Regions from separate parts of the Homo sapiens genome. Here region 1 is linked to region 2. Evidence: fine-mapped expression QTL. A gene starts in region 2. The other region holds a variant in brackets. All regions are shown on one strand. Distances are between the middles of the regions. Region 1 overlaps LINC03041 (long intergenic non-protein coding RNA 3041). Region 2 holds the start of BNC2 (basonuclin zinc finger protein 2).

Region 1 (16,489 bases), 660 kb after region 2:
CAAACTCAGAAAAGAGGTTTTCAGCAAAGTACTGAAAGGATCTCTCTTTCTGGCCAGGGTTGTTTTGTCGATATTCTACAAAGAGAATCAAATAGCATAGTACTGGATGTGGGAATCCAGGTTTAAGAATCATCAATGTGATCGGGACCTGGGAGAATTAGCAGAGTCTGTGATCAATATAAATCTAGCTCTGCACACCTAGGCAGCTGAGAGTGTGAACTCAACTGGAGCTGACATGGGGAAGTAGGGTCCTCCGAGCCCAGCTGGCAGGGTGCCACCCTTTCAGGCACTGACAGAAGAGTGCGTTCAGAATAGACTCCCAGGACAGAGGAGTCTGGCGAAAAGTTGGAGGTTGTTAAACCAGAAAAAGAGAAGCGTCAGGGATCACACAAGTGACTTATTCATGTGTCTAAAGCACTGATTTGCAGACAAGAGACTGTTATGGTTTGAATTTTCCCCCCTTATATCCCCAAATTTGTATGTTGAAGAAAGCACAAGGAAGAGCATTCTAACAATTCAGACTGTCTGAGAGTGGGCTGAGCTGCCTTTTGGTGTAGTGTGCTTTGTAGTATTGAGGATGTGTAAGTGGAGATGGTGAGATGACCAGTTTCTGGAGCTATTATAGGGAAAATTCCCGCAAGCGGGGGATGCACAATCTCCAAGATTTCCTTCCATTGTAAAATTCTATGCTTCTAACTCCAAAAGTATTCAGAAACAAAAAATTAGCTGAAGATTTTAAATTAGGAATTGTTTTGTTTTGAGAAAGGACAGAATCTAAACGAGCGTTAAAAAAGAACCAGTAAAATGTAATTCTACACAAGAAAAAGTGCAAGTTTTTGTTTGTTTGTTTGTTTGTTTTGTTTTTTTGAGATAGTCTCACTCTGTTGGCCAGGCTGGAGTGCAGTGGCACGATCTCAGCTCACTGCAACCTCTGCCTCCTGGGCTCAAGCAATTCTCCTGAGTCAGCCTCCCGAGTAACTGGGATTACAGGCATGCACCACCATGCCCGGCTAATTTTTGTATTTTTAGTAGAGAAGGGGTTTCACCACATTGGCCAGGCTGGTCTGAAACTCCTGACCTCAGTAATCCGCCTACTTCAGCCTCCCAAAGTTTTGGGATTACAGGCATGAGCCACTGAGCCCGGCCAAAAAGTGCAAGTTTTCTTTTACTCTTAACCTAAGATCTACCCTCTTAGCAAAATTTTAGGTATACAGTATAATATTGTTAGTTCTAGGGACTACACTGTGTAGCAGCTCTCCTGGACTTATGCATATCACACAACTTCATGCCCTTTGTCTAACTTCTCCCCATTTTTCCCTCCCTCTGAACCTGGCAACCACCATTCTACTTTCTGCTTGAGTTTGACCATTTTAGATTCCTAACATAAGTGAGACCATGTAGTATTTGTCCTTCAGTGTTGGGCTTTTTTTGACTTAGCATAACCGACTCCAGGTTCATCCATGCTATCAAAAAGGGCAGGGGCTGGGTGCAGTGGCTCATGCCTGTAATCTCAGCACTTTGGGAGGCCGAGGCAGGCAGATCATGAGGTCAGGAGTTTAAGACCAGCCTGGCCAACATGGTGAAACCTCGTCTCTACTAAAAATACAAAAATTAGCCAGGTGTGGTGGGCGCCTGTAGTCCCAACAACTCGGGAGGCTGAGACAGGAGAATTGCTTGAACCCAGGAGGTGGAGGTTGCAGTGAGCTGAGATCGCGTCACTGCACTCCAGCCTGGGTGACAGAGCAAGGCTCCATCTCAAAAAAAAAAAAAAAAAAAAAAAAGAAGGCAGGATTTCCTTCTTTTCAAGGCTGAGTAGTATTTCATTATATGTATATACCACATTTTCTTTATTCATTTGTTGATGGACATTCAGGTTGCTTCCATGTCTTGGCTGTTGTGAATAATGCTGCAGTGAACACTGGAATGCAGATATCTTTTTGATATCCTGATATTCAGTTCCTCTGGAAAAGAGCAAGAATTAACAGGGAAAATATTTCAAGAACCCAATGGGCAGGAAGTACAAAAAGAACAATGATGCTGGGAAACACAGGGCATTGAATGATATTAAATATGTTGGATACCACATGGCTGCAGAACAGGGTGGCTTACTATGAGCAGTATCTGTAGCTTTAAGCCAGGCAGGTTCCTGTCCTGCCACTTAGGAGCTTTGTGGTCTTGGCCCATCTATGTAACTTGTCTGAACAAGAGTTTCCTCATCTCCAAAGTGGGACAATATCACCTGGATCACAGTGTCAGGAGGATGACATGAGACAATTAATGAAAACTGTGAGACATGTGGTAAGCATTTCAATAAAGAACTATGAATTTCATTACGAAATTAGCATCTGCAGAGCCAAAACCAAAGGCTTATTACACAGACACACACACAGAAACACAAATGACAAAATTAAAGCTTTAAAGGAAATTTCTTTGTTAGAGTCCATGATGTAAATAACAATCTTTCCTATGTCAGTGTAAAGTTTTATTTGCTAATATTTTATCTACACTAAATGATTAGAAATCATGATTTGCCACATCATTCCACATAGAACCAAGTGGAATGGTAGATTTTGATTTTTTTTTTTTTTTTTTTTAGTGGGTACCCAGCTCATTGGAAAGTACTGAAGGCGGTCCCATGTTTGAGACCGTTGGTCTGATGTATGGCCTTGGATAAACTTCTGTCATTCTTGGTTTTCTCATCTGCACCTAACTCATCAAGTTGCTGGGATGATGAAACGGGACTAGGCTTGGGCAAAGTGTTAAGTAGATGGCTGATGAGCATGTTACCATCGCATCCTCGTAGCTTTGGGATGGTGATTGTCGGTACTGGCTCTACCCCAAGGATAAATGCCATAAATACCATGGGAAGCAAGGGTCAATTTATCCTGATAGAGCCAGTCAAAACGAGGAATAATGTGTGAAATTAAGGTAGATGAGGCTTTCAGGAAAGGAAAAACTTCTGTTCAGCAGCATCTTTTAGATAATGAAGTGGTCTCTAAGGAAACTTGAAGGAGCTCTACACTGGAAGAAAAACTAAAATGGGCAACCACTCTGCCTACTGAAATATGAGTGATTTCAAAGCTTCTGCCTTCTCTTAGTGTTTGCCGCTTCTCCTTCCTCTTTTAGTTTTATGCTTTCCCCAAGGAAGTTCCTTGATCCAAATTGCTCTTTATTCGAGGCTGTGATTCATTCCTGGTGTGGTTTAAATTGGCCCATGTTTGTAGTATCTGATGCTAGAGTCGTGTCTTAAAAAGGCAACTGCCATCTTTCCCCCGGGTTCACCCTTGGTGCCTTCCTGTCACCCCACTCCCTGTTTGCAGCGGGCCGTCCACAGCCCGGCCTGGCTCTTCTGCCTCGGTGTCAGCCTCCTCATTAGGCATGCTCTGGAGCTGGCTGGTGTCAGAGCCGGCCGATGCATCAGAATGCAGGGCATGCGTCCGGCTCCTGGGAAGCTGCGCATTCCGCATGAAATATGAAGGCAACAGCCAGCCCAGGGGAGACCCCGGGTGGATTTAGACGAAGAGCAGCAAAGGTGGCTGTTGGGGGAGGGGCATTCTGCGGGGCCAGAGAGACAATGTGGGCACCTATCACATATTTTAAAGGCACTGCTTTGGTGGGGGAGAGGGATGCTGGGAGGGGCACCTGGTTTATGTATCCTCTTGGCCGCTCCTGACACACACTCCCTCGGTACATTCTTTCTGCATATGCTCATGGTATATCTGTGATTATGGTGATGTGCCCTTTTGAGATAGGCAGCCGGCTCACTCCCGGCTGTGCTCATCACTGATTCTTGAGTTTCTCTTTTGGGATAACCTGAAATCATAAGAGCAGTCCATGTGGATTTCGGAGCACCTGACAGTAAGAAACGTAATAAAAAGTAATGGTTGTCCAGCAAGCCCTGGGGATGCTTGTCACACACCACCTTGGGTCCACAGAGGTTAAGCGTGCTTAACAGGTGGTGACCTCAGATGGTTCCAAGGCCTGACATTAGAGCCTGTCCTCGTCTTTGTCCAGAATCCTCTAGTTTCCAGCCGAGGCTCCATGCTGGGGTTCCACCCAGCCATTCAGAGATGAGGAGAAAATCTTTCATCCCCACCATAGGCACTAAGAGATTACTGCATGCCTTAACATGTCATAGTGTAATGTGCTGTGCACAGACCCTTAGAACACTTACCCACTGTAGTGTGCTTGGTTTATGTGCAGGTCCCCGACTTAGCCACTCTATCCATGAAGAAGAAATGCTGTATTATTTGTTTTTATATAACCAGAGGATTGGTACATAGTAGGCACTCAATAAATACTGAGTAAATTATATTTGATGAGACTGTCCTCCCACACCATCACACATCCAAGTCATCAAAAAACACAAGTCTACTGGTCCCTCCAAATACAGAAATTTTGGGAGGCCAACTTTTCTCCCCTAACCTAAATCCACAATGCCCATTACAGTGTACTCAGGGTGTAATTCCATTTCATATCATTGATTACAGAGTATTACAGAGTATCCCACTTTCCTTTGATCAGAGAACATACACACACACACACACACACACACACACACAAAAGGAAGCAGTTTGCAATCCTTGTGTGTGAGATGAATGTGAAAGTTTTCTGCAAGAAACTCCAAAGCAGTGATGTCTCCTGAAAGCCCCGGCCATTTCTGGTTGGCAGTACTGCCTGCTGCATACCTTCCAGAGGTGCCATTCAGCAGGGGGGTTCCACACTGAGACTGCCCTGCTGGCTGGAATGCGAGGCAATATGTATGCTTGCTTTACATGTGGTAACTTTCAGTGTACAGAACTGTATTTGGTAACTTTCTGTTAATTTTATAAAAAGAAATTGGCTTTTTTTGTGAACGGAGAGGACTCTGTACTTCTGTTTGGTTCTTGATGCAGAGTAGCAGGAAGTAGCAGGATTCAACTAAAATGTTGGCTCTTCACAAGACCATAAGCTGCCTGGGAGCTGGGCATCCTCTCCCCTGTCCACGGCTGGGTTCCCAGTGGCTAGATCGTAGCTAGAACGGAGTAGACACGAAAACATTGGGTTGAGTGGAGACTTGGACCTGCACTGTCACTTAGAGAGGGTGTCACTTAAACAGATCTGTCTAGATCTGCACTTTCTGTAGCAGAGAAAGTATAGTGCCTTATCCTCTAGCCAGTAATATGTTCACGGTTGGGTCCCTTAGAATCCTCCCTGGTTTTGATATGCCTGTGCTGAGAGATAGATAGAATTTCTCTATTGGAGCTACCAAGTTGAGAGTAGGATGGTAATTCGAAAGAGTAGAGAATTAGGCTATTAGACAAAATATGGATATGGAGAGAGAAAGAGAGCCAGCCAAGCAGCTAGCCCTACCAGCATCATATGACTTTGTGTATTCAGCCCCACCTGGAGTTCTAACCCAGAATGTCTTGGTTATATGAACCAATAAATTACTGATTTATTTATTTGCTAGAGGTAATATAGAAGAAGGTTTTCATCACTGAAAACTAAAAGCAGTCTGACTGACAGCCTTGTTTCATACTATCCCTGTCTACTTTTAAAGCTGTTCATTTGCTCCATGCTAACAGCTAATCTTCTCTTTACATTTAATGCGTGCGGATCTCCTGAATGTCTATTTTCACATGGTGGTTATTTTGCCCAGTCCTTTTGCCTGCTTTAAGCACAACTGTGTTTAGGCCACATACTCAGGCCAGATATATCTGTCCCACGCAAAGACCATAGAGAGAAGGAATACTTCACATTTCTGGATAACAGACCTAACAGTTCCCGCTGGTGTTGGATCCCCCAGCCCTACAGCACACAGCACCCCTTTGACAGTACACATTAACTCTGCAGTGGACCTTGGGGATGGTGAGGACACCCTGCTCTGGACTCGGCTCTGCTGTGGCTGCACTCACTTGTTTGTTTGTAACTTGTTTTGTAGGAATGGGGCTTGGCCCCCAGCTAGACGCGAGATGGCTCGTTTTCAGAGAACAAAGGAGAGGGAAGAAGATAGGTGTTCCTTGAACATCTACTATGTGAGAAACACCACCCAGGGCACTGCACCTGCCTGTGAGTTACATAACTTCTCTTGTCCGTAGCTGTGGATGCAAAAGGCTCAGAGTAGTTCAGCAGTTGCTTGCACGTGGGCTGAGCTGTTTAGGTGACGGTGCAGGTCTGTCGAAATGCAAGCATCCATGCTTTTTCTACCACCAGCAAGTTGTCTCCTGGGGCCATATTTTGATTTGTTTTGTGCGGTCCAGACCACTCTGCACCATGCTGGCCACACTCTAAGTCCAATGATGACAGCACTGTGTTTATCTCCATTTCATACGAACCTAATGAGGAGGGAATGTTACAGAACACCCCCTCCATAGTGTGAGAGAATTGCTTGACATGGAGATGCACAGAAACAAGAGAAGTTTGGAGTCCAATTTCCTCTTCTGTGGCCCACCCAGCCTCTGGGGTTGAAAGCGTGGCCAGGGAAAGCGTTCTGTTCCCGTACACGCAGGGATGTCTCTGGCTGGGTGACAGCCACTGACCCACCTCGTTTTTGTTCTGCAGGTGTTGGAAAGAGGATGCAACCATCCCCAACAGGGAAGGGTGGAAAATGCTGCACTGTGCATGGGTGAGTGTGCACATGTGTGTATGTGTGGTCCTGGGAGCAAGGGCCGGGCAGGGACCAGTCTGCAAAACAACATTAAGAAACCGAAACATTTTCCACTGAGAAACAGAATTACTGCCCATGGAATTCTTACCCAGCCTGAGAAGCGAGCAGCAGCCCCTCCTTTTCATTAGTTAAACAAAGAGGGTTATTTTTCAAATGAAAACTTTCAGTGTGGAAAACAATCTAATTCCCGGGGCTTTTTGAGAAGTGAGATTCTCAGTGCTCCAATAAACATATCTACGTGGATATGCAGCTGCAAAGGCAGTGTCGGTGCGCTGACCAAACGAGAGGGCAGGCTTGGCCAGTGGGGGACACGGGGACTTAGCTTCAGGCCTCTCATAACAATCCCAGGTAGAAAGGCCAACAGAGGGAATGAACCGTGGCCTGGAAGATTTGAACTGTTCTGCGAGAGAAAAAAAGCGAAAACAAAAATATTTTCTGTAAGTCCATTAAATGATCTCCTTTCTTCCTCCAAGTCAATGAACTCCTTCTGGTCGGAAAATAATCTGCAAACTCAAGCCCTGCTTGGTTCAGTGGGGTGTGTTCCGCCTTATTGAATTCCTGGCCTTCAGAGATCTTTCAAAAAAAAAAAAAAAAAAAACTTGCACCCACTTATGAACCCGTGGGGTAATGTCAGCTTTCTTTTGAGGGGTTCTCTTCATGAAAGCTCCTGGGTACTTGCATTTGTTTAAGAGCGGGCAAGAATAGGAAGGCAGACTGCCAGGGTTCAAATTTTAGCTCTACCACTTAAAAATAGTGTGTGCTTACTCTCTCTGGACCTCAGCTTGCCCATCTGCAAACAGGAGTAAGAACGGTACCTACATCACAGAGTTTTCATAAAGATTACATGAGAAAGTGCTTACAAAGTGCTTACCACAGTTTCTGGACAAAGGAAGACCTCAAAGTGTGGCCATTATTATGAAGTCAAAGGGACATGGCATATGGTCACAGACCTGAACTTTTTAAATTAATAAATATCATTCTTTCAGGTTTCTACTTTTCCCATCTCACTAATGGAAAGCATGTTGTTTAAAAAAATAAAAGCAGACACAAAATAGCCTCTCTTCAAATCAGAGCTTCCTTCTCTAATCAGTCCGTGAATGTTTCGGGGAGTGCTCTATTTAACTTGGCTGGCCCCTGGTTTTGCCGTGAGTAATACACTGGGCTTCATTTCAAACTCCACACAGCCAAGATCACTGGATACTTGAGCTTCCCCAAGCTGAGTTGATACAGCTGCTCTGCCCCTGGTCACTGGTGAGTTGTCCCTGTGGATTCCAAAAGGTCTGAATACAAACAGGCCAAGGTGCATGGGCCAGCCGAGATGGTCAAGGACATGGGTTCCCACTGAGCAGGTGTCCAGGTGAGACAGACAAGACTGAGGAGGCCTGGGGAGCCCTACAGTGAAGTCAGAAGAAACTGAGACAGACAGAGGGTGGCCAGAGATTATGGAGAGAGGGGCCTCGCTGACACTTGGGGAGACCAGTGTTGCTTGGAGCATCCTTGCTCTTACAAAGGCAGCATAGGTGGTTGAAAGAAACCATCCTGATTTTGACGTTGCCACAATGATAAACGAAGGGCATGAAAACTCTCCAAATTAGGGTCTCTGAGACCAATTAGGTCAGACGATGAAGATAGATTTGCTTGAAAAATAAAATTGAGTATGGCTTTCTTTTAAACAAGGCTTCATTTCAAACGGACCTGAATAAACCAAATTCAATTTAGACATGTTATTCCCCAGGAACTTAGCTCTGGCATGAAATAAGGCTTGCCTGAGGCCACTTGAGAACCGCAGTCTGTGGGACAGCCCTGTGATGGACAAATAGAGTAGAGTGTTAATTTTGAGGCCTGTCGAACCCCAGTGACAGGCGGGCTGGTAAACAGATTGAAGAAGCTAATGACTATTTAGTGCTTTCCAGGACAGGAAATGTCTCTTTGGCTTCTGAGGTAGCAACACCCTTACCTTAAAAGGTTTGGATTGATGATCTGGGCCCAATAAAAGCCCCTTCTGAAATCTGTTGGGAAGCCCAAGCAGCATTTCAAAAGTGAAAGATAATGAAGATGTTCTAGAAGCAATATCATTATAAGTATACATTATAAATGATAATTACAATTAATCATATTAGCCTTCATAATCCCCCAACATTATAACTCAACAATGGTAGATTCATCTTCCTTGTGTTCT[T/C]TGGAAGAAGATTTTTGCCTTGAGCTACACATTTTCTCCTTTAATTTGACTTGTGGTGGTTTCTGCTTTCTGACTGATTCTCCGTCTCCTGAAGACAGGCATGTGATGGGGAGGGAGGTTTGGGAATTAGATGAAGTTGTGGGGTCATGATGCCCGGCAAGTTCTAGAACCCCAGAATTTACTTGGCCCCTGAAGGAGACACTCGAACAGCCCATCTTGTTATTTCAATGCTGTCAGAACTCTTTCTTTCATGCCTCTACATGTGAATCCATGGTCAGGCGTTCCCCAATCCCCGCTGCAATCTAAATCGGCCTCCTCCTTTTATTCTCTCTCATAATTCCCTCTTCTTTCTCCCCAAGCATTAATCATGGTTTTTAATCATTTCTTTATATTTATTTGATGTTTAGCTCCTCATTAGATATGAGCTCAATAGGAGAGGGGTCATGTCTACTTTGATCACTACCTAGCTTTGTGACTGGAATAGGCAGGCAACCTATAAATAATTGTGAATGGAAGACAGAGTGGGTTGCACAGCTTGGAAAAGCATGCCCCTTAGAATGAAGCCCTCTCTTCTTTCTCTTCCCATTGACACCAGACATTTACTATCTCAATATATGCCACAAAGGCCCACAGTGACTTCCCGCATGCTGAGTCCAGTGGCTTTCTGGGTCCTCATCCCTCGGTTGAGTTGTAGAGTCTGATACAATGAACTCTGCCCTACTAGAAAGCCTGCTTTCTTGGCTTCTGTGGCTCCAGGCTCCCCTCTCTGGTCTATGCTCACTGACTCCTTCCTCCTCTTATGCTGTAAAGGGACTAAAGCCCATGGTTCTGGACACAGCCTGATCACATCCTCATGCTGTTGCTTGTTTTGACAGCTCCTCCACTGTCTTGGCTCCAGCCTGCAGCTTTTGACTGGGACCTACAAAGTCAAACATTTCTAACCCTGAAACGCTCTTCCTCTTGCCTTCTTTTTCTTCTCCCAGTCACCAGGCTGGACAACTTAGTGTCTTTCCTCAACATCGTTCCTTATATTTTCCAAATAGTCAACATATGAAAATACTGAAAATATGAATTCGGTGTCTTCTCATTGTCTATGACTCAAATCTCTTGATTGTCCAGACCTTCCCATCTTTTCTCAATTTCCTGCTGCACATTATCCAAATTTCTCTTATGCCAATAATGCCTTTTCTATTAATACTGTCAACATTCTACCTTTCCTTTAAGGTTTATCTCAATTATTTCCCACTTTAAGTCCCCTGTGAGCTTCCCAATCAATTACAATTTCTCCTGCTTTTAACTACCAACACACTACATATCTTTCAGTTGGCATTCTCTTAACTTTTTATTGAATAATGAATTTCTATGTATTTGTCCATATTTTCAGGGAAAGCCTAATAAATAGATCCCTGGAGAGACTGACCTAGATAAATCAAAAGCATAAACTACTAACACACACACTAAAGACATTAAACAAAATATTAAGATGATATTATGAAGAATTTTATGTCAGTGGCTTTGAACATGCAGGTGAAATGGACACACGCCTAGAAAAATGCAAAAATTGACATAAGAAAAAATGGATAATTTGAATATTCACATATTTGCTAGAGAAATTGAATCTATAATGTAAATAGATTCCTACAAAGGAATCTTGAGGCCCAGACATTTGAGTGAGGAGTTATTTCAAACATATGAGGAAAAAAAAAAATGAGTGTTACACAAATTCTTCCAGGGACTGGAAAAAGGAATACTTTGCTACTCATTTTATGAGGCCAGCATTACTTTGATACTGAAACTTGTCAAGGACATTCCAGGAGAAGAAAATTATAGGCCAATCCTTCATTGTAATATAGATATGAAACTCTTGAGCAAACTAGTGGCAAACCAAATCTAGAGATATTTTAAAAGGATCAGATATCATGACAAAATAAAGTTTCTTTTAAAAATGCAAGGTTGGTTTAACACTAGAAAATCAATCAATATAATTCACCACAGAAACAAAATAAAGAAAAACCATATGAACACCTCAAAAGATGAATAAAAAGCATTTGTTAAAACTCAGAACTTGTTCATCACTGAAAATATAACTGGCATCAAATTAGGACTAGAAGGGAACCCTTTCATCTATAAAAGTCTGTACTTAATAATGAAATACGAACACTTCTGCTGGAGACCAGCAACAAGACGAGGATGTTCACTCTTACCATTTCTATGTAACAGTGTACTGGAGGTTCTAGCCAGAGTAGTTTAGACAAGAAAAAGAAATTTCAAAATTTAAGGATTAGAAAAGATACAAACCTGATAGTATCTGTGGACATGATTGTATGCATAGAATCTACAGGTGAATTATTAGAATGAGTCAGCAATTTAGCTAAACTAATGAATATAAAGTCAACATACAAAAATCAGCTATGTTTTTGTATACTGGCAACAAATATTAGAAAATAATACTTTAAATTTGATGCCATTTATAATAGTATTTAAAAAATTAAGCACCTTGTTAGGAATAAATTTAGCAAAATATGCACCTGACCAATGCACAGCAATGCAGAACATTGCAGAGAATAGTTTTTAAAGACTTAAATAAATGAGGAGATATAACATGTAAATTGGATTGGGAGACCCATAGTTGTAAAAATGTTAACGCTCTTCAAATTGGCCTATGCTTCCATGCGATACTAGTCAAAATCCCAGCAGATTTTCTTTCTCTGTCCTTCCTCCTTTTTCCCTTGCTTCCTCTCTCCCATGCACTCTCCCTTCCTCTCTCCCTTCCTTCTTAAAATTGGTAAGCTAATTCTAAAATTTACGTAGAAATACAAAGTGTCAAAAATAGTCAAGACAAAATTGAAAAAGAAGAAAGCTGAAGGACTTGTACTACCAGAGATATCAAAACTTACACAGCCACAGTAATTAAGGCAGTGTGATACTAGTGTAAATAGAGACAAATGGACCCATGGAACAGAGTTTTGAGGGTCCAGAAACAGAGCTGCATAGAAATCACCTAATTTACAACACGGGCACCACTGCAATGTAGTGTGTGAAAACAAATGTCTGGGTTAATTGGATTTCCAAAAGAAAAAAAATTCTTTGACCCCCTATCTCACACCATACACAAAAGTCCATTACAGATGGAACATAGGCCTAAGTATAAAAGGTTGAACAATAAAGCTTCTACAATATAACCTATGAGAATAACTTCATGAGCTTGGTGTAGATAAACCAAAACAATACATAAAATTTACTAACGATAAAACTAAAGGTTGATAAATTGGTCTCATTAAAATTAACAACTTCTCATGAAAAAAAGTAAAGAAAACACAGACATACATATACCACTCATAGAGTGGGAGAAGGTAAATATATCTAGAATATTTAAAGATTTCTTATATAACAACAACAACAAGATGACATATAATGTATTAAAAATGGACAAAAAATTATTGAACAGTCCCTTTACAAAAGAAGATGTCTAAATTTGTAACAAACTTATGAAAATATATAAAATTAGGTATGCAAACTTAAAATCACAATTCAATGTTAACCACTTTCTTATTAGAATATAAATTTCAGATAAATTGACAATGCTGAATACTGGTGAGAATCTGAAATGACGACAGGAATTCTTACATGCCATTAGCAGGCATGGAACCTGATGTCATGCTTTGAAAAATTGTTCTTGTGGTACCTACTGAAGCTAATGTACGCATAGTCTCTGATGCAATCAATCATTCTCCTAGATACATACACAAAGAGATCTGTGTATAAGGGCATCAAAAGTCACGCACAAGAATATTCATAGCAGTGCTATTTCGACTAGCCAGAGCCTAGAAGCAACACAAATGTCTATCAATCAACAGGAGAAAGGTGTTCATTATGGCATATATACAATGGAATACTATATAGCACTGAAAATAAACAAACTACCACTATGTGCAACAGTATGGATAAAAATTATAATGTTGAGTGAAGGAAGAAATGAAAAAATATTGTATGACTCTATGGACCTTCAATGACAGACAAAACTAATCTATACTGATGGCTGTCCAAAGAGGGGTCACTCTTGGAATGTGGGAGTAAAGATGGTAGCCTTACAGTAATGGCATTATTCCATGGCCAGGTCCGAATGGTGGTCACGTGGGTGTGTTCACTCTGAAAAATTAATCAAACTGTACACTAATGCTAGGTATCTTAGTTATACTTCAAATTATGAAGTTTATCAAAACAACCACAATAGCAAAAACCCTTTACCAGAGGATCTGTATGAATTCATTTAAGGCTTAGCATTCATTTTTGCAGGCTGCTTTGTGTCTTTGTAGTTCTGGGGCTGTCTGCCTTCATAGTTGCCATTGCTTCTGTCTGTTGACATGGTTCTATCACTTTCTTCTATTCAGCCCTTTGCTTTCAATCTAAACTTGATATATTCATCCTGATCCTTCATCTAGTTGTTTTGCCCTTGGAGCTAATTTCTCATTCTCAACTTCTATTTCAGCATTTCACAGCTGGGCATGGTGGCTCACGCCTGTAATCCCAGCACTTTGCGAGGCCGAGGTGGGTGGATCATTTGAGGTCAGGAGTTTGAAACCAGCCTGGTCAACATGGTGAAACCCCATCTCTACTAAAAATGCAAAAAAAATTAGCTGGGTGTGGTGGTGGGCACCTATAATCCCAGCTGCTTGGGAGGCTGAGGCAAGACAATCGCTTGAGTCCAGAAGGCAGAGGTTGCAGTGAGCAGAGATCATGCCATTGCACTCCAGCCTGGGTGACGGAGAGAGACTTCATCTCAAACAAACAAACAAACAAACAAAAACAATAACAACAACAACAACAACCAAAATCACATTTCACTAATAATGTCCCATGTCAGGTAGTTCTACTTCTTCTGTATATTTTGTTAATGGCCTTGGTTTAATTTTATTGCTTAAATGTTCACTCTTTCCTTAATTTTTTTCTGTTTTGGCCTAATGATTTTTATGTTCTTTTTATCAATAATTTCATAATTACTATTACATTATCTGCTTGCTTGGCAATCTTTTTTTTCCCTCCCAATATCACAACTTTTAAACAAAGCTTTCTCCTCTACTTTTCTGTCTAATGGGGTAGGAGTATGGGATACGGAATAGAAACTCTTTCTCTTTCTTCACCCTTTACATCCAGCAAAAAGAGCCAGGTGATCCGACATGCAATAGGAAAGGGGAAAAACAAAGATTCACAAATGATAACTAATACAAGTGCTTCCCAGTTGCCCAAAGTGGTTTAACATATTACTTTTCTTACAGATTTAGCTAAAAGGCCGTCTGACCTGAGCTCTTTTATGGAACTATTCGGCCTCGCTTTCATTTTTTCTTTTTAGAAATAAATCCTCTCGTCCTCAATCGGAGACAGTGAAGAAAGCAGGGAGTTTGTATTTTTTAAATCCATATGAAGGTTTTGGCCAGGAATTTTTCAAACACTAGAATAAATTTTTAATCTGGACTTTGATATCCAGACAAGCCCAGCTCAAGTTCTCTTGGGTCTCCTTTCCAAAGAACAGACTTCAAACAGACACTGCTCGCTGTCTTAGCAGAAAGGCACCACAGCAGCTGCGACGGCCGCGGTCGGCAGAAACTGCTGCACATCCTGCCTGTCTGGGCGGGACCTCCGTTTGCTACATTGCCCTGGGAACCAACACATCCTATTCCGTGGTCCTGAAGCAGCAGTCTTCAGAAAAGAAGGAAAGAGCATGGAGACCATCAGAGCAGGAAATGCTGGGTTCTCTGCTGACAGCATTCTCCATAACATGAGATTTAAATATTGAAGGGAAAAAGACAAACACTATTTTCTTCAGCATTATGATTTGCTTCTTATGCTTTTCATTTTTGACTTTGTCTTTGGAGTTTGGATTGTAGAAGAAATAGATGAGTTTCTTACAGATGAGACCCCAGAGAACCTTAGGTTTAACTCTTAGTTTAACTTCCTGAAACTTGACTGACAAAACAGAGACTGGGAAAGATAAAGAACCTTAGGTTTAACTCTTAGTTTAACTTCCTGAAACTTGACTGACAAAACAGAGACTGGGAAAGATTAAAAAAAAAAAAAAAAAAAAGTAACTGGTTTTCTGTGACAACTATAGAAGCAGTTCATTTCCTTTTGGGGACTTAGATGGGAGACTCTAAGTAATTGAAACTTAATACGCAGAGTCCCTCAGAAAAGTGACCACCCTGGGGCTGTTAGCATCATTTCCTGTTAATTGTCAACTGAAATAACCAGTTGTGGAAATGGCACAGGGGGCCTGAAGCAAAGGAATGTAGTCTAGCCCACTCATGGCCCATAATGAAATACAAATGATTTAACAGCAGTACTGACAAGGTTCTCCGAATAAATCATTTCCATTCTCACCACTTCACATCACTTACTGTAATTGCCCTGAGACAGAATGGGGGAGTTGGCCATTGGTTACCTAAGCTCTGCGACAATTCCCCCCTTTTACCCATGAGGACAAAATGCAGTTCTGACCTAATTAATTTACTCCTCTTCCCTAAGGCTGAAGCGCAAGTACTTTCTGTATCCCAGAGAAATCTAGAAGCTAAAGGTGGCCAGAATAATTGCAAAGTTTTTCTGCGAATCCTTTACCTGTGTGTTGACTCCGAAGTGGCCTCTCACAGGCCCGAGTGCTCAAATGAGCTGCTGTGGCTGGGCTTGCCTGGGTTTTCTACCAAATCACATGCCTGGATGGATCTGCTGTAGTTTGAATGTTTGTGTTGCTCCAAAATGCATATTGAAAATTAATTCCCAATGCAACAGCATTACGAGGTAGGGCCTTTTGGAGGTGATTAGCCTTCATGAATGGAATTAGTGCCCTTATAGAAAGGGCTTGAGGAACCGAGTTCACCCCACCCACCTCTGCTCTCCCTTCCGCCATGTGAGGACTCAGCACAAGGGGCCATCTTTGAAGCAGAGGCAAGGGCTTGCCAGACACCAAACCTGGCACGTTGGTCTTGGACTTCCCTGCCTCTAGAACTATAAGAGACACATTGCTATTATTTATAAATGACATAGTCTGTGGTATTTTGTTGCAGCAGCACAAATGGACTCAGATAAGACCCAATCATACCCGTCTGTGTATTTCTTCTGTTTTCTCCCAATCTTTCATCCCACTGCAATGAGGAAGGTTTGGAACCTCTCTTGCTTTTTTGGAGAGGCCAAGTTCCTCTGTACCCTTGATCAATAGGGAGTTATGAGTCTCTATGAACTATGCTTCTCATTTGAGTTAGTCATCCTGTTCTCTTGGCCTCCTCTGCACTTTGGCCATGCCTGCCTATGGGTTTGTCTCTCTCCTTTGGGCCGAGAACATCTGGGATGAGGAACCTGGTGTGTCTCATCATTGTATCTCCACCGTCTGCCAGAGCACACAGGGAACAAGTAACTGAGGAAAGCAAGGGAGGGGAAGGATGACAGGAAGAAGTCTTGGCCTACTGGCCCAGTTCCCTGGATGTGGTTGCAAATTGATAAGATGCACAGAAACAGAACTTCCAGGGAAGCTTCCTGGAAAATCTTTATGCTTAGACGGAAACTCTGATATGAATGCCACCACAGTATTCATAGGATCAGGATGGCTGGGCAGCCATCTCCCCCAAGACCTGCCAAGACCGTGTCATTTCCTTATGTGATGCTGACAGTCTTAG
Region 2 (16,489 bases):
CCGGCTCCCTCAGCTTGCCGGGAGGTGTGGAGGGAGAGGTGCAGGTGGGAACCCAGGGCTGCGCGTGGCGCTTGTGGGCCAGCACGAGTTCTGGGTGGGTGTGGTCTCAGCGGGCCCGCAATTGGATCGGCCAGCAGGCCAGCAAGCCCCGGACAGTGAGGGGCTTAGCACCTGGGCCAGCAGCTGCTGTGCTCCTTCTCGATTTCTCTAGGGGCCTTAGCTGCCTCCTAGCCGGGCAGAGCTTGGGACTTGCAGCCTGCCATGCCTGAGCCCACCCCGCCCCTCCAATGGGCTCCTGTGCAGCCGGAGCCTCCCTGACGAGCACCACTCCCAGCTCCATGGAGCCCAGTCCCGCAGGGTGCGGGACTGGCAGGCAGCTCCACCTGCAGCCCAGTGCGGGATCCAATGGGTGAAGCCAGCTGGGCTCCTGAGTCTGGTGGGGACTTGGAGAGTCTTTATGTCTAGGTAAGGGATTGTAAATACACCAATCAGCACTTTGTATCTAACTCAAGTTTTGTAAACACACCAATCAGCACCTTGTGTCTAGCTCAGCGTTTGTGAGTGCACCAATCAGCACTCTGTATCTAGTTAATCTGGTGGGGACTTGGAGAACCTTTAAGTATAGCTAAGGGATTGTAAATACACCAATCAGCACTCTGTATCTAGCTCAAAGTTTGTAAACACACCAATCAGCACCCTGTGTTTAGCTCAGGGTTTGTGAATGCACCAATCGGCACTGTGTATCTAGTTAATCTGGTGGGGACTTGGAGAACCTTTATGTCTAGCTAAGGGATTGTGAATGCACCAATTGGCACGCTGTATGTAGCTCAAAGTTTGTAAATGCACCAATCAGCACTCTGTGTCTAGCTCAGGGTTTGTCAATACACCAATTGACACTCTGTATCTAGCTAATCTAGTGGGGAGGTGGAGAACTTTTGTGTCTAGCTCAAGGATTGTAACTGCACCAATCAGCACCCTGTCAAAACAGACCAATCAGCTCTCTGTAAAACAGACCAATCAGCTCTCTGTAAAATGGACCAATCAGCAGGATGTGGGTGGGGCCAGATAAGAGAATAAAAGCAGGCTGCCCGAGCCAGCAGGGGCAACCGGTTTGGGTCCCCTTCCACCCTGTGGAAGCTTTGTTCTTTGCAATAAATCTTGCTGCTGCTGACTCTTTGGGTCCACACTGCCTTTATGAGCTATAACACTCACTGCGAAGGTGTGCAGCTTCACTCCTGAAGCCAGTGAGACCACGAACCCCCTGGGAGGAACAAGCAACTCCAGAGGCCCTGCCTTAAGAGTTGTAACACTCACCGCGAAGGTCTGCAGCTGCACTCCTGAGCCAGCAAGACCATGAACCCACCAGAAGGAAGAAACGCCAAACACATCTGAACGTCAAAAGCAACAAACTCCAGACACGCCATCTTTAAGAACCGTAACACTCACCGTGAGGGTCCGCGGCTTCATTCTTGAAGTCAGAGTAAGAATCCACGAATTCCGGACACAATGGCAGCTACAGGAAATGAATATATACTCACATTTTAAAATGAAAAACAAAAACAGGATCGGTGCGGTGGCCCACGCCTGTAATTCCACTTTGAGAGGCCGAGGTGGGTGGATCATTTGAGGTCAGGAGTTTGAGACTAGCCTGGCCAAAATGATGAAACCCCGTCTCTACTAAAAATACAAAAACTAGCCGGATGTGGCACGCACCTGTAGTTCCAGCTACTCGGGAGGGTGAGGCAGAAGAATTGTTTGAACCTGGGAGGCGGAGGTTGCAGTGAGCCGAGATTGCGCCACTGAACTCCAGCCTGAGCGACACAGAGAGATTCCATCACAAAAAGAAAAAAAGCGAGAAGAGGAGTGCACTGATTTACATTTTTGGCACATTTCTTTAACAGCTGATTAAGACAGGTGGGTTCTCGTATCTGGTTCTGCATTCAGTCTGTTGTGATACCACCTGTTACAGTGTCATTGGAAAACTCCACTGTACACACAGGAGAGAATGTAAGAAAAGCAAATAATTTCCCAGTATTGTAATAAAAATAGTTTTGACTTCATGGACCTCCTAAAAGGGTCTTGGTGATCCTTAGGGGTCCCGAGACCATACTTTGAGGATGGCTGGCGTAGGAAGTCAACAGTGTTTCCTACATTCTCCAAAAGAAAAAGCTTTCCCCCCCCCGCATATTCTTACACTGAACTTGTTTGGCCCTAAGGTCTTCAGATCAATGCAGTGTAATCCTCTTGACATTTCTTCATTACTTCAAGTAATACTTAAAAGAGTTTATTTTGTGCCTGGCATTGTTTTATGGGCTGAGGCTATGTAAGTGAACAAAGTCCTCACTTAACGGTGTCATGCTTAGGTTCTTGGAAACTGTGACTTTAAGCAAAACGACAATAAGCAAAACGCATTTTACCATAGGCTGCTATAAACAAGCATCCTGCAGGTTATTTCTGGTCACAAAACATCACCAAACTTCTAAATAAACACCCCCAAATACTTGTAATATTGAAACATTGAAATAAATGTGAGCTATACATACACTTAAAGATTAATAAAATTAGGATAATTAAGTTTTTTTTTTTTTTTCAAGACGGAGTCTGGCTTTGTTGCCCAGGGCTGGAGTGTAGTGGTGCGATCTTGGCTCACTGCAACCTCCACCTCCCGGGTTCAAGCAGTTCTTCTGCCTCAGCCTTCCAGTAGCTGGGATTGCAGGCGCACACCACCATGCCCGGCTAATTTTTTTGTATTTTTAGTAGAGACGGGGTTTCACCATGTTGGCTAGGCTGGTCTCAAACTCTTGACCTCAAGTGATCTGCCTGCCTTGGCCTCCCAAAGTGCTGGGATTACAGGTGTGAGCCACCATGCCCAGCTAGATAATTAAAATATTTACCCAGCTATTCCAGTTCTGAGGTGCAGGTGGCTGGAGCCAATCTAGACAGCTCAGGGTGCAAGGCAGGAACCAACCCTGGACAGGCCATCAGTCCCTGCAGGGCACACTCACACACACTCACAATCACTCACACTGGGACCATGTGGATACTCCAATGAACCCAAGGGGCATATCTTTGGGATGTGGGAGGAAACTGGAGTATCCAGAGAAGACCCATGCAGACAATGGGGAGAATGTGCAAATGCCACACATACAGTGGCCCTGGCTGGAATCAGTTTTTTTTTTTTTTTCTCAGCCTTGTAACAAAAGGACGTTGAATGAAACGACATTGAATGAAACGATGTTATTCAAGGACCTGCAGCACAGTTGTTTCCCTTATGGAGCTTCCATTTTAGTTGAAGAAAAATAATAAATATATAAACTAAGAAGACAATTTCAGATATTGATAAGGGATAGAAAAGGGATACAACAATAAGTAATAACAGGAAGTATGAGGGGTGTTTTGAGTGGTGGGCCAAGGGCTATTTAAACTAGAGTCTGCAGAATTGCTATTAGAGCTGAGATATAAATGATAAGAAGGAATCATTGGAAAACTTGGGAGAACACTCCAGGTAGAACAGCAGGGACAAAGAGCAGGAAGGAGCTTTGCAAGTTAGAGGAACAGAAAGGAAGCCAATGTGACTTGAGTGTAGTCCACCATGGTAATGAACAAATGGTATAAAACAGTCGAAAAAGTCAGGCAGGTTTAGATAATTCAGGTCTTGCAGGATACAAAAAGGACTTAAGGTTTTATTCCAATTGCCATACAGACCGCTAGATGAAATGAGACTATGGAATCCTCTTAAATGCTAGGCTTTGCTTCCTCCTGTAAATTCTTCCACCTTCTCCAAGTGCTGCTCTTCAGCCTAACACATGCCCCATTTTTATCATGATGACTCTCCAGAAAGGCATGAGATCCCAAACAGACGCATCTTGCCTCACATAAATTGTTTGTTATGCTAACGTCAAAAACAGACAGATGTGGAACCAATCAGGGGAATGTAAATTACAGGTCGCTTGATGTGGAGTAACTTCTGCATGTTGGTCAGTGTAGGTGCGCAGCCAAAAATGCACTGTGTGAATACAATTGTTTGGCAATTGCTGATCTGTCACTTGTCCAAAGCGGTAAGTGTGTGAATGGATTTGTATAGGTAATGATTCTGAAATTAGCAACTAGCTTTTCTCATCTCTCCATGATGCAAGAAAAACATACTGGAACTTGGCCCATTTCTGGAAAATTCTTGTGATGATCCTCAATTTTTCAAAATGCACATTTGGTCATCATTATCCCTTGTGTAATCAGTTTCTGCAAACTACAGGATGATGTTAGTTATGTTTAGAGAATAAGGGAACATGCTCTACACCTTAATCAAATCATTTAAAGATGAGCCTTCTTAGATAACACACATTTAAATATATATATATATAGATGGTCGTTGGGAGATCTAGTCTATACTTTGATTTATGCTGTAGTGAGAGAAGTAATCTTGTCTTTCATTGGAAACCTGCAGATGCAACCTGTCCCCAGAACTCTAAGGTATTTACGATAAATAATATGCGAGAAGTGTTTACCACACATTTTTCCACAACAAAATGATGCACAGAATCCACGAATGCAGAAATCTTTGAAAGGGCCAGGAAACAGTCAGGAATTTGGACCCAATCAGTATAGGGAACTGCAAGTGCGTGTTAAAAAGCTGGATCCACGTGAATAATAAGCCTAATCCCATTTTCTTTCTTTTTTTTTTTTTTTGCAGATGGAGTCTCCCTCTGTCGCCCAGGCTGGAGTGCAATGGCACGATCTCGGCTCACTGCAACCTCCATCTCCCGGGTTCAAGCAATTCTCCTGCCTCAGCCTCCTGAGTAGCTGGGATTACAGGCGCCCGCCACCACAGTTGGCTAATTTTTGTATTTTTAGTAGAGATGGGGTTTCACCATGTTGGTCAGGCCGGTCTCGAACTCCTGACCTCAGGCGATCCGTCCGCCTCGGCCTCCCAAAGTTGGATTATAGGCGTGAGCCACCGCGCCCGGCCACCTAATCACATTTTCAAGACAGCTGTGGCTACTTGGGACTCTCATCAGCGGCTCCCGAAAAATTTAAAAAAATCAGTTACTGTGAAAATTTATATTAAACTAAGACCGGACTCTGCAAAGAAAATAAAACCATGTAATTCCAAGGCTACATATTTTCAAAGGAATTTAATTCTGTCCTCTGAATGCAATTAAGTAGTCTCTCTCTCTCTCTCTCTCCGTTTGAGGAAGAGAGAAGGGAAGAAGGGATGATTCTCACTTTTCACTAGGAACCGGTAACCATACCTGCTGTTCTGCCAAGTCTTCGCCGATTCTCTGATTTCTTAGTGCTCAGGGAGTATGCTTGAAACCTATGCCTTCCTCCCATGTTAGATAACCAGAAAGTTTGCTGTAGTTATGATAAATCTGCATAACTCGGAGATGTTTTTGGCACAAAGTGTACGTTAGTTAGATGATGATGATTAAGCTCCCCCCCCACCCCCGCCCCATTCTTGCGGCCGGGGAGTGTGTTTTGCCTGTATTTAAGAAATATCGTTCAGCTGCAGGCGTGTGCGCGCTTAGGCTGTAGTCGGCGTTTCTGAGTCTCCAGGGCAGGGTGACTTGGGTCGGCTGAGTGTCACCCACAGATGTGACTGTTCTTTCCCCCGCGGGCGCGACAGCCTCCTTCCTCTCCAGCCCGAGGCCCGCGGCCCAGACCACGGGAAAGGGAAGGAAGCCCTCGCCGCAAGCCGGCGTCTGGGCCGGCACAAAACGCTCCGCCACCAGAAAAACTTTTTTCCCCCAGCTGCGCGCAACTTTTGGCCTTTTCTCCCAGCACGTTCGCGTCCCAGGTTTCTGTCCGCTGGGTTTTCCTCCGCCTCACTCGCCTTCTCCCCAGCGGCGCGCGGAGGAGCTGGGCTGAGAGGGTCGCGGGGAGCCGGGTCGGCCGCGGCTGGGACGCTGGGGAAGGGGCAGGGGAGGAGGGGGCGTGCGGGGCTGGGGAGGAGGAACTGGTCAAAGGGGACAGAGACGCCCGAGTGCCCGAAAAGGAAAGAGCTGCCGCGGTTTGCTGCAGTCGGAATAAAGTTCGCGCCCTTTCCTCGGCGTTTCGCAGCCTCCTCTCCTTGCTCCGCTCCCCACCCCCGCCCCGCAATTTTTTTTTGTGTGTGTGTGACAGCTGGGCGCTAGCGGCCACCTCTACCTCCACGCCCGCAGCTCCCCGGGGGGGGGGGGGGGCGCCAGGGTTGTTTTTCCATCCCCACAAAGTTGTTTTTTCCATCCCCAGAAAGAGAGAGCAAGAACAACCCAAACAACAAACAAGCCCCCAAAGAAGTCACGGGGCGGTGGGGGGAGGGAGAAACATACATCCTCCTTCCCCAAGCCCCTGGACCTCTGAGGACAAACAACACAACGACCGACTTTTATTTTGCAAAAGGGAAGCAACATTGTAGTCACGACAATTCTGCAGAGAGAGGAAAAACTTGTGGGGCTTGCACGGCCGCCGAGGTCACCTCGCCCGCCGGTCCCCCGCCTCCCGCGAGCAGGGCAGCCCCCTCCCGGGACAAGCCGTTCCCTTTTTTTTTTTTTTTGTCCCGAGGAGGAGCCGGGGAACCGTGCCGGCTGGGACTCGGGGCGCGAGCGCGACCCCGGCGCGAGTGTAAATCAGTCACCTGAGCGCAGAGGGGCCGCGGCGAGGGCGCGCGCGGGCGGGCGGGGAGGCGGAGGCGGCGAGAGCGGAGGCCCGGAGGAACTCGGAGGGGGAGGGAGAGAAAGGCCGAGACGGAGGGAGCCAGCGGCGGCCGAGGGGCTGGTCCAGGCGCGGCCGCTAAGAGGAGACCAAGAGGCGGGGGCTGCACTTGACAACCAGCATGCCGAGATGGTAAGAAGTTTCCACCCTCCTTCCTCTTTTATTCTAGACTTCCTCAGAAATGACCCCCGCGCCCGAGCGCCACCGGGGCCGCCCGGGGGCCGTGTCCGCCCTCCGGCCCGCGGCGTGAGGGGCAAGGGGCGCTGAGGAGGGCGGGCCGGGGACCAGAACCCCGGTCCGACCTGATCCCCGCTGCGCTCCCAGTGGCCTCCCCTAAACTTGGCCCCAAGTTTCTGAGGCGAGCTCTAGGTGGGAGGGTGCACGTGAGAGGGGGCTTCTCAAGGTCGGCCCCGCTCGCGGCTTCCGCGCGAAGGTGAGCGGCTGGCTAGGGGAGGCTCCAGGGCGTTGGGGACGGGCTGGGGGGACGAGGTGGAGGGGAGTGGGGGATGAATGGAGCGCTGGCAGGAGCTCGGGGAAGAGAGGAAGGCGGCTGGGACCTACGGGAACTTTTACAACTTGCCGCCGAGTGAGGGACCGGCGGCTGGGCGTGGGTGCCGGGTGCGCTGGGGCGCAGCCGCCCGGGCCCGGCACGTTGACTCTTCCTCTCCCCTTGTCTTCACATTCGGAATCTTCCCGTGGTAAATGGAGATGGGAGGAAATGCTCCCGCAGGCTTTACGGAGAAGGTGCAGAACGCAGGGCAGGAAAATCAACCTTGCAGAGACGGCTCTTTTCGAAGTGCAATTCTATAGGAGCCGATTTGTTTTACTTGCACGTTGACTGGAGGGTGGGATTTGGGGCCTGGGGAGGGAGCAGAATAAAAAATTATATATGCTGAAAAACCCTAGGTGAAATCTCCTGTGAAGTGAGTTTAAGGTTGAAAAAAAGTTCCAAGTGCAAGTGGTGGAGGAGATGGGCTGGCTTTGCCAAGCGAGACTCCAGCACAGCCCCTCTACGAGAAGCGACTTCTTTGCAGCGAGGAAGCGTGCAATTAGTTCGCCTGGTGATGAGCCGCTCTGTCCGCTTTCGGGGAAGTGATTTGTTAGAAATGGGGCTTGACCACTCCCTTCTTTTTAGTTTGCTTCCTCCCAGCGTCGCTATTGTTACCCCCACTTGGGGATCTGACATGGTGTATTCCGTATATAGAGGGAACATATGAGAATACAGGTGAGATAGCGGGTTGGCATTTTTTCCTCTTCCCTGCTCCCTAATGTGACATCTCTTGTTTCAGTGATCAAAGTCACAACTGGAGTGTAGGAGATGGGACTGTCAAATGCAGGGGCGCGTACACACACACACACACACAAAAGCAAGAGCCCAGGACTGTGGTTACAGTAACGCTGACAGAAATTAAAGTGGTTTTGAAAGCAGCGTGCGATTTATGATGGTTCCCATTTACCCTAGAGTCAAGCTGTTGTAAAACTGACGTACAAAAGACATCATAAAATAATCCTGTGTACCCAGGATTAAAGTGGCAAAAAGTGGCCTGTTTTATTTTTATATACTTCGTGGACACTTGGAATTGTTGAAAGCCGTGTTTAAGTGAGACATCACAACAATATTAAATATATCTGTTTAGAGCTTGAGAGTTTTTCTTCTAACGGGCGTTTTACACAAGAACACTGTAAAAGCCGGTGGCAGGTATTATTTTTCTTCCCTTTACCCTAGCCTATGTTAACTATTTGTCTACACATGTATTCCTATATCCTAATGACTTTGAACTGTGGCTAAGCCTGTCTGCCTTCCACTGCTTTGTATTCTGCAATTTCACGTGTTACTGTCCACACGCATACATGCTTTAAATGGGAGGAATTTATTTCTGGCACGTTACTTAGTGTGTCTGATCTGAAGATGTACCCTAGTAGTGAGACCTTGTACAAGTTAACAGAACATTTACTTTTTGGACAAACACACACACACACACAATCCCTTGTGAGCCTTTAGAGAGTATCTGTGTTTTATATTTGTAGCCGTTTCATGTAAACTGTTCAGTCTTAATGAAGTTCTTAGTTCCCAGAGTGCGCTGTATTAAAAGTCCAGATTGCTAATCACTTTACCAAAGTACAGGAGTATCTTTACCTGAGGGAAGTAATAACGAGCTTGAACCTGAACTTTGTTTTGAGTATCTTTTGAGAAAGGTCTGAAACTTTTTTTCCTCTTGAGAATATTAAGTTGGGTGGTGTTTGCATGTAAGACTTTGAATAAGAATAAACTGTGCATTATATTTTACAATTAATATTAGGAAAATGTTAATAGCAGTACATTCCTACTACCTGATTTTTTCTTCTATTTGAGATGTAAGATATCTGTCAGATAGAGATATGTGATTACAAAAAGAAGCAGACAAAAGCAGAGCTGACTATTGCTATATTAAAATGTAAGTGTTACAGTTTGAATTTTCAAGTGAGAGTTCTTGAGTTCAGTGCTTTACATAACATTTTGTCCTAATCTTGCTTGCTGTCAGGGATGTTTCATGGTTGTGCAATTGCTGCAGTCAAGAATGCCAATTTGCATTCCAGGAGTGTCATTTGATTACTTTTATCTGCACAGCTCCAAGACCGGCCCAGACCTCTCGTTTCATCTTGCCATGTCACGAGTCAATGCTGTGTCGTCTTTTCAAAAATCTGCCTGATTTAGACAAGAAAGAAAAGTACTTTCATGTTGCAGCCGCAGTCCCCTGCTAACTTGTCAGCAGCAGGATATGATTCACTTGGGCCCAGAAGAATGGAACAGAGAGGCGGGTTAGGCGGTTCAATAAAGCCCACGGACAGGTAGTGTGTGACATCCCCAGAGAGCCGCAGTTAATGAAGAACAGGTCTGCTTAGTTCTCCACACGCTGACCTGGTGCTGTCCCCACAGTTTTCTCATTTGATCTTTCCCAGCAAATTGATCTTTTCTTGTATTTTTTTGCCTTCCAAGTTAGTCCTTGTGGGACTGAAATTAGCAGAGCAACTTAAGTTGGATAATACAGCTGTTCAGAAAAGAAGAAATTGGACACTGGCTCAAAAAGGGGTGGGGGTGGGGGGGTAGAGGGAGCTATTCTTTTTGTTGTTGTTCCTGGGAATATTTCTTATATTAAGGGAGTCCAAAATAGATGATGACTTGAAGTTAGTGGTTTCCTTTACTTTTAATTTTACAGTTAAGGGTTCAGCACGGTTTTAAATATTCCTTAAGTATTTGAAAGATGGCCTTAGTGAATATGAGGAGTTCAATTTAGTACTGTTCACATTCACTTGTTTGAGATGATTTGCCAGTTGACAATGTGGCTTTTATGGTTATTGTAAGATGGCATACTTCAACTGTATTATTTATAGTCTTCTAAACAACCTACGATCCCCAAATATCCAATACTAAATTGCAGGTAAGATTAAACAATAAAAAAGTCATTATACTAGTATTGTGTATAAATACTATGGTACATGAAAATGTTTTCTATACTATTAGCATCTTTGTTTTATATAAACCCCACAGATACAGTTCATGAAGTGTTTTTTTCCTGAATTTTTGAGATTCTGCATTTAAATGTAGATTTTTAAAACTGAGACCAGACCACAAGTTTGAATTTCTGTGGATGTTCATACATGTTGTTGTTTTTTGACATTAAAATTAATTTTAGACAGGATGGGTAAATTTATGTCGTATGGTTTAATCTGATTAAAGTTTCACTATAGAATTCTGTACATAAAGCTTAGGTTGGAAGCAGTTTATAGATTCTTAACTTGATAAATATATAAGGAGCAACGCTTTCTGATTTACTCAGCAGATGGTCTCATTTACCATCTACATCCTTACAAGAAACAGAGTGGAAAACATTTCTTGTGGAAGGGGAGGTAGCCTCCTCAAATCTTTCCTGTTGGATGGGAATTATATAGTATCATTGGTTAGTAAAATCCCCTCTGAAGAGCTAGAGGGAGCCTCATGATTTTATTAGATATACTTAAGGTTTAAAAAACACTCTGGCCATCAGAATGTTGCACAAAAAGAGTAGGTAATGAATACTGGCTCAGTGTTGAGGCTGGGAGGTGCTATTATGGTTTTTTTTTTTTTTTTTTTTTTAAAAGTGACAGAAGCAAAAGAACTTTCTACAAGAACAGTCAAGGCGTCAGCTAAGCTTTCTAGGCTTTTGCCTTTCAGGTGATTTGAAGATCAGGCAAAATGCAACCAGATACTATATTTTAAATGTTTTGGTTTGACTAACTACTGTTTGTAGTTTTTGTCAACTGAGGGAGTTACTCTCGTTTTAGGAGGCCAGTCTTCAGAGTTCTATTAAAAGTAGCTTCCTACGAAATCACCGAGAAGTGGGTTAACTTCTTTTAGTTTATGAAGGACAACCCCTTTTCTGTAAATGATGGTTTTGGAGTAGTTCTACATACAACTTCTGTATTCCAGAGAGAAATTTTCTTTAAAATAAATGCTTCCTGTTATAAGCATAAATGTTAAACTATTTATAAACCTGACTTATTATGGATCAAAAAATAAGTTAAAGAAATAGGATTTAAATGATATTACATTCAATAATTGTCATTTAATTTCATATTTACCACTTTCCATTAACATTTGTGATACAGTTATGTTAAAGAGTCATTGATCATAATTGCACTTTAATATTTATATACTAGTTTTTAGGAGCATTACTTTAGACAAACATATTTATCATTTAAGTAAATAATATAATCCAGTGAGATAAACTACCCAGATTTGTCCTTCTTAAAATCTTTTGCACAGTAGCTCTCATTATGTTGCTAGCCAATAAAAGTCTTTATTTGTTGCTTATTAGAACCCTCAGTACACTCAAGAGTTCAGCTATAATTTAATTTGGCTGTTCAAAGAGCCTCCCTTGTTTTGAAATATATTCTCAGTATGCTTTTACCATTTGTTACGAACCCATATTCTAACTCAATGCGTAAGAACCTATATTCTAACTCAATATGCGTAAGAATGATATTACAGATATATCATTCTTTAAGTTTTTGCTATCGTCATAACTTTTTTCCTTTAAAAATATCCGTACATAACAATATCAGTTTTGTTCTTTTTGCTCTATTTTCTCTTTGACATTCTAGAGTATTTTTCTCTTGGTGATTTAAATTGTTTTGCTGTTATAATTTAAAATAAACTTCCTAAGGAATACAACCTTCCCTTGAGGTATAGTGAGAAGGGCACCAAAAAATAATAGGTTCGATAATTAAGAATTCTAGCTGAGGCCATTTCACAGTTGCAATCACTTACAATTACAAAAAGTTTGCCTGGTACTTCACAAATTGCTAGTAACTGCTGTGAAGTTTTTCAATGAGTAGAAGGTGGCTTTGAGAGTTTTGGTTGTATTTGTAACAAATTACGTTCACTAAAGACTAGAACTTGACTATAAAACTCTAATAAGATGAGTATCAGGAATTCTTCCATAAGGAAGGCAGAATGTGAAACTCCTAAATGACTCACTGTGTATGTATCTTACCAGTGGGAATAGCATCAAGCCAGCCTTCTAGATACAGTATTTAATAGTTGTCAAAATGTACAGTATTGTCTTGGAACTTGTGGTTCATGAGTTCATAGTCCCTGCTTTTTTGTGTTTATTACAAAGATGTAACAACCTACACAAAACATTTTTCTCTTATAATGACCTTACATTTGCCAAAGTGCCCCATGCTGAAATTCCTTTTCAGTGTCTTTTTTTTTTTTTTTTTCAGTCCAAAGCCAGACGTGTACCCAGACACAAAAGCCTCTGTGTATAGCAAGCTGTTTTAAATATTGTGACTCGACGATGTGCTGTCCTTTCTCTGCTTGAGCCAAGGATCTCTGCTCAGTGTCTGTGGATTACCAAGCTCCTTCTTTATTGTACCTCTTGTCAACTATTCCTATTCATTTAACCTTTCATTAGTGTCTGTGCAGCTTCACTGTCTGGAAAGGCAAGGAAAAACCGAAAGGCCCCACTGTCACAGTTATTAGATTTCTCGGTTACATCCCAGCAACCGTAAAGAAGTAAGCGTCGAGACTATTGTCGTGCATGCTGCTGTCCTGGGGTGCAGCTCTTCTGTGCATGTCAAGGACATGTGCCACATGTTGATATGCATCCCAGGGATAAATGCACAACATGGGGGATAGGCCGACGCTGGCAGTAATGAGCTTTGTAGGAGTTATTGCAAAGACCAACAGTTTGTGAAGGAATTTTGCTTAACAGGCCAAGGAGATAGACAGAGTTGAGGGTTGCCAAGATTTGCCTGTGCGGGGCTTGTCAGTCACATTGTTTTCATCCAAACTTCATTTGAGGGGAAAATTGAATACATTTGACAGCAATGGAAAGTCTTATTTTCTTTTTTCAAATCTTTCAGAGGACAAAAGCAGTATTTCTGGTGACTAACATAACTATTTTTAGTACTGACTAAATCATATATATGAATGGATCTATTAGCAGTTTATCTTTTTCCATATCTAGAGAATAATTAAAAGATATTTCATAGATGTCATATATATGTTTTAAAATCTATGTAAAAATAATGTAGCCTATTAATTTTCCTTTGCTCTTTTCCTCCTTTGATTTTCCTCTAGCATAGCCTGGTTCTTTAGAAATACATTTGCTTAATTGGCTAGATGCAGAGGAGAAAAAGGATGATAATGTGGTCATTTTCAAATCATAAATAAAATAAGTATTTGTAAATTTTGTATTGGAAAATATTATTTTAAAATCTTAGAGATGAAGAGAATTACCTTTTTAAGAATTCTGAAAACACTTGAATAGAAAATGGTACATTATAATACATTTGTCCCTCTTTACCCAAAAGTTTGTCTTTTTTTCTTTTTTAAACTAGGAGAACCGTTTTTACTGAGGGTAAATAAAATATTTTTGTCTCCTGATTTCAACAGATTTTGTCAGTTTTCCAAACTCTTTTGGGGTTCTCCAATAACTTTTCAAATATGTTAATGACTTATTGCCAAATCCCTGTAAAGTTATTTTTAATTTTTCTTGACCTTACCTCTTTTAGGCAAGGCTTTTTAACAGTTGTACTTTCTCTGTTAAGGTTTTTTTTGAAACGGAATCTCGCTCTGTCGCCCAAACTAGAGTGCAGTGGCGTGATTTTGGCTCACTGCAACCTCCATCTCCTGGGTTCAAGAGATTCTCCTGCCTCAGCCTCCCGATTAGCTGGGACTACAAGCGTGCGCCACTGCGCTTGGCTAATTTTTGTATTTTTAGTAGGGACAAGGTTTCACCATGTTGTCCAGGCTGGTCCCGAACTCCTGACCTCAGGTGATCCACTGGCCTCGGCCTCCCAAAGTGCTGGGATTACAGTGTGATCCCACAGTGAGCCACTGTGCCCAGCCACCTCTATTAAGCTTTTCTTAGTGTCTTGTGAAAGTATGGGCTAAGTTATCCTTGTTTTAGGGAGAGAGAGTTATTTTTCATAGTCTTTCCCCCAGGTGGGATGCTAAATGCCCAGCTATCCTATCCTAGGGCTATGCCCCAGCCTTTTGGCCAGCGGGCGGAAGTACTGTGTAGAATATATTGAGATGGGGCAGGGCGTGGTGGCTCATGCCTGTAATCCCAGCACTTTGGGAGGCTCAGGTGGGTGGATCACAAGGTCAGGAGTTCAAGACCAGCCTGGCCAATATGGTGAAACCCCGTCTTTACTAAAAATACAAAAATTAGCTGGGCGTGGTGGCGGGCACCTATAATCCCAGCTACTCGGGAGGCTGAGGCAGGAGAATCACTTGAACCTGGGAGGCGGAGGTTGCAGTGAGCCAAGATCTCGCCACTGCACTCTAGCCTGAGCGACAGAGCAAGACTTTGTCTCAAAAAAAAAAAAAAAAATCTATCTATATATAGCTATATATAGATGAATCTGCCGTGGTCATCTAAGGCTGGTGACCTTCCCACAGAAAAAGCATGAGTGTCTTAACATTCCTTTTTCTAACAGTTTCATTTCCATTTATTATGGTTTGTGTTGGGAGTAGTAGAAGAGAAAAGAGGGACTTGTGAAGATGAAGGCCATAATTTTAACTCTTCCCCTGGCAATGAAAACCCCCAAATTAGAACAAAATAGGTTAGTGCTGTGTGGTAATTAAAGAGAGAGGAATACATGGCAGTAGCTACTCTCTGCAGGTATCCTGCACTTGTTCTTTATCCAGTCAGTATCTCTACGCAGGTGACTGGCTGTTTCTTGGAAGGCAGTTGTACTGTTGCCTGTTAGAGACTCAGAACAGCGCTGGGACGGGGTATCTATAGAGGCCCTGTTCTATTCCACCTACTTTTGATAGCCTGTGTTCTCTCATTTGTAAGTCAAGTGAGTTTGGTAATTTCTAAGTGCCTTTCCAAATGGTACATTTCATATTTTATATAACACTATATAATCATAGCAGTTTGCTGTTATTAGCTTTATTGAGATATAACTCACCCACTTAAAATGTACATTAATATTCCATTTTATGGATGTACTACCTCTTATATATCCATTCAATGAAAGCACATTTGGGTTGTTTACACTTTTTGAGTAATGTGGCCCTGAACATTCATGTACAAGTTTTTGTGGACATAATGTTTTCATTTCTCTTGGGTATATGCTCAAGAGTAGAATTGTTGGATAGTATGGCCTATCTACTTATAACTTTTTGAGGAACTTCCAAATTGTTTTCCAACGCAACTGCAGCATTTTACTTTTCAACCAATAGTGTATAATTCTTCCAGTCTCTCTACACCCTCCTCAACACTTGTTATGTGTCTTTTTTTTTTTTGTCTTTTGAGATGGAGTCTCGCTCTGTCGCCCAGGCTGGAGTCCAGTGGTGCAATCTCGGCTCACTGCAAGCTCCACCTCCCAGGTTCACGCCATTCTCCTGCCTCAGCCTTCTGAGTAGCTGGGACTACAGGCGCCCGCCACCATGACTGGCTAATTTTTTGTATTTTTAGTAGAGACGTTGTTTCACTGTGTTAGCCAGGATGGTCTCGATCTCCTGACCTCGTCATCCTCCCGCCTCGGCCTCCCAAAGTGTTGGGATTTCAGGCGTGAGCCACCGCGCCTGGCCCTTGTTATTGTCTTTTTATTTTTACAGATCTTAGTGGGTGTGAAGTAGTATCTTTTTATTTGAATCATACTAGTGACTATGAAGTGATATCTCTGTGGTTTTGATTTGCATTTGCCTGATGGCTAGTGATGTTGAGCATCTTATGCACTTTATTGGCCATTTGTGTATCTTTTCTGGAAAACAGAGACATGTCTCCATTGGCCATTTTTCACTTGGGTTATTTGTCTTTTTATTATGCAGTTTTAAGTGCTGTTTATATATTCTGAGTACAAGCCCTCTGCTAGGTACAAGGTTTGCAAATACTTTATCCTATTCTGTGGGTTGTCTTTATTTATTTATTTATTTTTAAAGAGACAGGGTCTTTCTAGTTCTGTTGTGCAGGTTGGAGTGCAGTGGTATGATTATGGCTCACTGCAGCCTTGAACTCCTGGGCTCAAGAAATCCTCCTGCTTCAGCCTCCGTAGTAATTGGGACTACAAGTGCAAGCCACGATGCCTGGTTAATTTATATATATATATATATATATTTTGTAGAGATAGGGTATTACCATGTTGCCCAGCCTGGTTTCAAACTCCTGGCCTCAAGCGATCCTGTTTCCTTGACCCCCCAAAATTCTGGGATTACAGGCATAAGCCACTGTGACTGTGCGCAGCTGTCTTTTTTTTTTTTTGAGACAGAGTCTTGCTCTGGCGCTCAGGCAGTGGCGTGATCTCAGCTCACTGCAACCTC

The links. PIP is the estimated chance that this variant, and not a neighbour inherited with it, causes the effect.
Region 1: its variant is fine-mapped to the expression of BNC2 in thyroid (GTEx, PIP above 0.99).

Annotation. Positions count from the first base shown.
Region 1 is chr9:16,205,334-16,221,822 of GRCh38, reverse strand. LINC03041 (long intergenic non-protein coding RNA 3041) reads left to right here. Exons shown (of 4, transcript NR_171034.1): 2 at 5,924-6,051; 3 at 6,544-6,607. Among named protein-coding and RNA genes, the nearest start is that of LINC03041, 63 kb to the left of the region's middle. The variant T/C (reference allele first, on the strand shown) is at 8,829.
Region 2 is chr9:16,860,979-16,877,467 of GRCh38, reverse strand. BNC2 (basonuclin zinc finger protein 2) reads left to right here and starts at 6,798. Exons shown (of 7, transcript NM_017637.6): 1 at 6,798-6,822. The coding sequence starts at 6,820. RefSeq lists an enhancer at 8,835-10,034.